Regions from separate parts of the Homo sapiens genome. Here region 2 is linked to region 1. The links come from fine-mapping of genetic effects on gene expression. A gene starts in region 1. The other region holds a variant in brackets. All regions are shown on one strand. Distances are between the middles of the regions.

The links.
Region 2: its variant is fine-mapped to the expression of MEGF8 in whole blood (TOPMed, PIP above 0.99).

What each region holds. Positions count from the first base shown.
Region 1 is chr19:42,323,928-42,326,825 of GRCh38, reverse strand. MEGF8 (multiple EGF like domains 8) reads right to left here and starts at 1,191. Exons shown (of 42, transcript NM_001271938.2): 1 at 396-1,191. The coding sequence starts at 582. It overlaps TMEM145 (transmembrane protein 145), which reads right to left. Exons shown (of 15, transcript NM_173633.3): 15 at 1,762-2,089. The coding sequence ends at 2,009. RefSeq lists silencers at 526-595, 606-675, 896-1,035, 1,076-1,265.
Region 2 is chr19:42,286,580-42,289,477 of GRCh38, reverse strand. CIC (capicua transcriptional repressor) reads right to left here. Exons shown (of 21, transcript NM_001386298.1): 3 at 2,558-2,707; 4 at 2,238-2,472; 5 at 2,029-2,158; 6 at 1,751-1,933; 7 at 1,503-1,668; 8 at 388-590; 9 at 72-297. Among named protein-coding and RNA genes, the nearest start is that of PRR19, 14 kb to the left of the region's middle. The variant A/G (reference allele first, on the strand shown) is at 1,636.

The DNA of each region.
Region 1 (2,898 bases):
GCAGTAAGTAAATTGTGTTGGTACCATTGCACTCCAGCCTGGGTGACAGAGTGAGGCCCCCATCTCAAAAAAAAAAAAAAAAAAAAGTAGTAGTAGTAGAACCAAATTCAAAGCCAAATGATTGGACCCAGACCCTGAGTTCTTAACAGTTACTCAGAAGGCCCGGCACTGATGCTCCTGTCTTGTAATTGTAAATCTGGGTGTAGGTGCATCTCCCCCACCAGACTTGGAGGCCTTCCAGGGCAGGGCCCAGGTTGGCTGCAACCCTGGGTGTCAGGCATTTTAGAGCAAAAGGCCTGGACCAGAACCGAGCTCTGGGAATGTGGTGAGTGGATGAATGCACACATGAATGAACTACCAGCGAATTAGTGAGTGACCCACGCGGCCCCACTCACCCTCGATGAGCCACTCGCAGTTGCCATTGACGCTGTAGTTGCCCGCACCATCCGTCACGAAGCCTGGCGCCTCCCGCAGCACCTGCCGCTGCCCCTTGCAGTCCCCCGCCCGGGCCCCAGGGGACAGCGACCCCAGCACGGCCAAGGCCAAAACCAGTGCCATGGCCAGAACCTTGCCCAGGGCCATCGCCGCCTCCTGCACTGACCCTTAGAGCGGGGACAGGCCGTAAAAACCTGGAGAGGACCCTCTACCCGGGGTGAGGCCCTGCAAATGCGACCTCTATAGGCATAACATGACCTTGTAGATCGAAGAGGTCCCGGAGACCCGGCAGTCCCGGCGAAGGGTACGGCCACTGCTGACAGGCTCTGGAAGCCGAGGGCTGAGCCCTATAGAGCGATGGAAGGCCCTGTATATGGAGTCATTATGGACGGGGCCGAACCCTAGGGACCGTAGGAGTCCCCTATAGACACAGGGCTCCATAGGGGGCCGATCCCATGAACAGTGCCCAGCATTACGGACTCAGGCTGCTGCAGGCCAAACGGACCTTATAGACGGGTGGGTCCCCAGGGGGCGAAGGGCTCTACGGCCCGGCAGGAGCCTCCATAGAGGCTGCGGGCCGGGACAGGCTAGGTTCGGATGGTCCAGGAGAGACTCCTCCAGCCGGGGGCGGGGCGCGAGCGGGTGCCGGGGGCGGAGCCCGTCTTCAGGGGTTCGGGCCTGGACCCCACAGACCCAATCCCTTTGCTCACCCACCCTCGCCTCCCTCCGAAGCCGGATGGGCCAGATCAGAGAGACGAGGGGACGCTTGGGCCAGAGCGGCCGCGGGAAGACCCGCTGTGGGAGGGCGAGGGGGCGGGAGCCGAGCAGCCGCTGTGGGAGGGACGGCGAAGAGGAGGCGAGAAGTTACAGAGCGGCCGGTCAGAGCGGCCCTGGGAGGACTGCGGAGCGCCCAACCCCAACCCTCCATAAAGGGAGACTTCCGGGGAAATCCCCGCCCATTTGTTCCCAACCGCATGCGCAGCAGCGTCCTCCTGGAGGGAGAGAAATACACATATGCGCAGTGCTAAGATCGTAACCCAAACTCTGGGTGCCTGTGGTTCAGCAAAGCATGGGCCACTGGAGGGCGCCTCTACCTCTGAGTGAGGAAAGGAAGGCAAAAATAAAGGAGCGGTGCAAGACCCTGCTAGATGTTTGATCATCTTCAATGTTCCCACATTCTGGGGCAACATAAAGATCAGGTTATACAGGCCCCTGCCTCCGGTTCCAAATTCCCATTTCACAGATGGACACACTGAGGTCCCGAGCCTGACATAGTTCTGGCTCAGCCCCGCCGCTGAACACCATCAAGATGCAAAAGAAGCCATGTTATAGATAAAAACGAATCCTTTTTTATTTTGGCAAGAAGGGGTAAAATGTCTTTCTGCCAGGGACCCGAGGGAAGGCCCCCGGAATGGAGATGCGGCAGATGGAGTACGGGTCCGAGGTCACAGATCCGAGGGAGGGTTTCAGGGTCGAGACCAGCATCGCAATATCCATCCCGGGGTCGCAGAGTCCTGGAGAGTCACAGGCAGGGTCCCGGCGGTCACCACGGGTGTTCCGGAGTCCAGCGGGGTCAGAGGTCTCGAAGGGGGCCAGGGGGCCGGAGGTCACGGAACAGCGGGAGCCCAGAATCCGGCGCCGCTCGGGGCAGGGGCTGAGGGAGGGGACGGGGAGAGCGGCTCCCGCGGGACCGTTTGGCACAGAGGGGAGGGGGGCGGGACGCAGCGTACCCAACCTGGGCGCGCGGGGTGGGAAGGGTCGGGAAGGCCGGGGATGGGCGAGCTCTCGGGCCGGGATAAAGCAGGGGTCCGGAGCCCGGCCGGGGCCCGGTCATGGCCCATGGGGCAGGGGCGGGCAGGGGTGCTCAGACCGGGGGTGCAGTGCCCCCGGCCGTGTGCATGCTGAAGTATTCGGTGAAGCCGGTGTGCGGCGCTGCCGTCTGGGGCACGAGCGGCTGGTAGGGCGGCGTCGGGCCGTCCCAGCCCGAGTCGGCCGCCTTGGGGAACCGAGCGGGAAGTGGGGGGGAGGCTGCGCCCGGCTCGGCCATGGTCACCACGCGGCCCCTCGGGGCCACCGCCGCCGCCACCGCTGTCTCCTCCACCTGCTTCCCGGCCTGGGAGGGGGGTCAGGGTCAGAGGCCGTCCGGGACCCTCGGGGGGCAGATGCGGCCCCGAAGGCCCGTCCCCCTCCCCCGGAGAACCCTTCCACCCCAGGTGTGGACGCACGTTGTCAGTCAGGGAAGGACTGGGTGGCGGGGCGCCTGGGCAGCGGGGCCAGGTACTCAAAGGGCGGCGTCGGGGCGCGCGGGGCGAACTCCGGCGGCGGCCGGGGAGCTGGGGGAGAGCCGCGGAAGGCGGGCGGTGGGGGCACGGCGCAGGGAGTCTGCGGGGGTGTGCGCAACAGCGCCAGAACCCAGTCAGGCAGGGTGGGCGCGGGCGCCAGGGGACGGTCGCGGCGCGGTGT
Region 2 (2,898 bases), 37 kb after region 1:
CAAGTTCTGCCCACCCTCTGAGCCTTGGCCTGCTGGGTCCTGGGCAAGATTCTGGGCCCTGCAATGCTCACCAATGACATCATCATCCCCTTCCTCCTCACAGATGACCATGCGCTCCTCATCACTCGTCATGTCCTCACTGGCCGCACGCTGAGAACGAGAAGCTCGGGTGGGCAGCAGCGGGGGCCGCCCAGTGGCCGCCAAGGCACCTCCCTCACCAGGGGCTGCAAAGGGTCCTGGAGCTCCATACTGGGTAGAAGGCTTTGGGCCAGAGTACGATGCAGGGCCAGACACCATCTGCAGGATAGGTGGCAGAGAGGGTTCAGCGGGGCTGCTGCCCTGGACAGGTTCCCTGCCCACCCCCACTAGGGGGCCTGCACCCTAGACCTGCGTCAGTTCCTGTAGCGCCTGACTGTCTACTTCTCCGCCGTCCAGGCTGTGTACCCCGCTGTGGGAGAAAGCTCGGGGCCGGGCTGAGCCAGGTCCCCCAACTGTGTGTAGCCGTTCTGCCCCACAGGAGCTGCTCCCCGGAGCCTTGGTGTCTGAGCTCAGGAGTGTCTGGGCTGCAACGGACAGGAGCTCAGAGGACACTGTAAAGTAGAGAGTGGCGCTATGACAGTCAGTAAGCCTGTCACCAGCACCTAGACTGGCCCAACAACCCATAGATATTTCTAGGTACTAGGCAGAAGCAGGCTGGAATTTCTGGGCCACTTGGTGAAAAAAAAAAACCACCACCCACCACCAGTCCAGCATCTCATTCCTGCTGATTCCTGCCCTCTGGGGTTGCAGCAGGCCCATTCCCTGGGGGGCAGCCCTCCTGAAAGTAAGGAGGCCTGGAGAGAGGTTCATGTGGTGCTGGCTAGCCAACCGCTGGCCTGAGCCTCGGTTCCCTCATCTCAAAGAGGAAGTAACTAGTGTCCCCACTCTCATAGAAGTGCATATCCATAGCAACTATCCATCTAACCTCACAGAACTGCCATACCCATAGGCTCACTCCAAAAATGTGCCCCAGAACACCGCCAGGCACACCAGACAACCTCAATAAGTGGAAGCAGCCCATCAGGGGTGTTTGCGAGCTGCAGTGGCCCCAACTATGGTGCTGGGGGCCCGCCGAACTGGGGTTTACATTCTGGCTCTGTCATTTGCTTGTTTATGACTTTAAGCAAGTGATTTTGCCTCTCTGAACCTCAGTTTCTTCTTCTAGAAATAGAATGGGGTTTTGCAGACTACAGCTTATATTCCCTGTAGTGCCAGGCACATAGTAAACACTCGTTAAACAACAGTTGATAACGAGATTGCTGTTTGGGAATCTTAGTATCTGTGTGGATCTCCCTGGCTCCGTCACATGAATCAACTGCCGGTTCCTTTACGGATAAGGGTCGCCAAATTAAAGCGATAGAGCAGAGAGGAGCTGCTGGGGCAGGGGAGGAGCAAGCAAGGGGGTAGCTGGTGGCTCTCGGGGAGGGAGGTGGCAGGGTGGGAGAGCCAAGGGGCTGACTAACCCCCAGGGGCAGCAGCAGTGCCCGTCTCCGACATGCTCCGCTCCCGCGTCTCCTTGTGCCCTCCTGCCAGCCCCAGGCTCGTGGGCTTGGCCTCTGAGCTGGACTTCTTTCGGTCCTTGTTGCACCACTTCCA[A/G]TCTGGGTGGGCCTTGAAGTGGGCCTCCTTCACCTGGCAGGAGAGGGCAGGGCAACCCTTCACTCACCCACCCCACCAGAAGAAGCTGGGAGGAGCCAAGAGGCAACAGCGTTACCTGGAAGGCCAGGTCGTGGTACTTCTGCTTCTCCTTGGGCCCCAGGGCATACCACCACTCGCCCAGGATCTTGCTGACGGTCCGGTTGTCCTGGTTGGGATGACGCTGGTGGACCAGGGCCCGGTGCCGCTTGCTGAAGATCATGAAGGCATTCATGGGCCGCCGGATGTGGTCCTTCTCCCGCTGCATTAAACACAGCCCAGAGCGGGACAGTTAGGACCTGGCAGACAGGTGTGGGTGGCCACGGGGTGAGCACAGGACAGGCAGGGATAAAGTACCTTGTTGGGGCTGCGTCCATCCTTCTCAGAAGATGAGTCCCGTTCCTTGGGTAGGGCACTGAGGGACTGGGTCCGACGTTTTCCGGGCGGTAGAGGCAACTGGATCTCAGGAGACATGATGGAGAGGAAGCTGCGGCGGGGCAGCAGGGACAGTGAGGGCCATGTCTCTGGCCATCCCACCCCCAAGTCCCAGGCCTCAGGGAACTCACGCATCATCATGGTCACTCTCTGTCTCACTGTCCAGCCGGGGCTCTCCTGGGGGGCCGGAGGCCTCCTCCTCCGTGGTGGGAGGCGGACCCTTACCAGATTCCACCACCCCCAAAGGGTGTGGGGGTCCGGGTCCTGGGCTCTCAGGGCATGTGGCTCCAGGGGGCCGCTCAGGGTCAGCACTCCCTGTCCCACCTGGTGGCCGTTCATGAGCAACAGCTGCCGACTCAGCAGGTTCTGGGGACACAGAGGTAGATCAGAGGGCTCCTAGGCCACCTGGACCCCACACCCTTGCCTCCCCCCAGTCCCCACCAGCCCTCACCTTTGCTCTGGTTGGAGGCCACTGGGTGGCTGGCAGGTTGCTGGGCCTCGCTCGGCTGCACGGAGGGGTCAGGCTGGCTGGGTGCCAGGAAGGGGACTAAGGAGTGCCAAGGGAACACAGCCACAGAGCGAGGTTCCACATTCGTCCACACTGTGGAAAGGAGCCAGGTGAGCTGTGCAGCAGGAGAGCCTGGCCCCAACCCCAACTCAAGCTCTTCCCCACCCTAGATGAGGTAGCCCCACCCCTTTTGTCTACCCCCCACCCCCAACACCAGAGCCTCTTGGACTCGTCCATGCAACGTCACTCAGGAAAAACTCCTCCCTGAAAGGTTTCTAGATTTA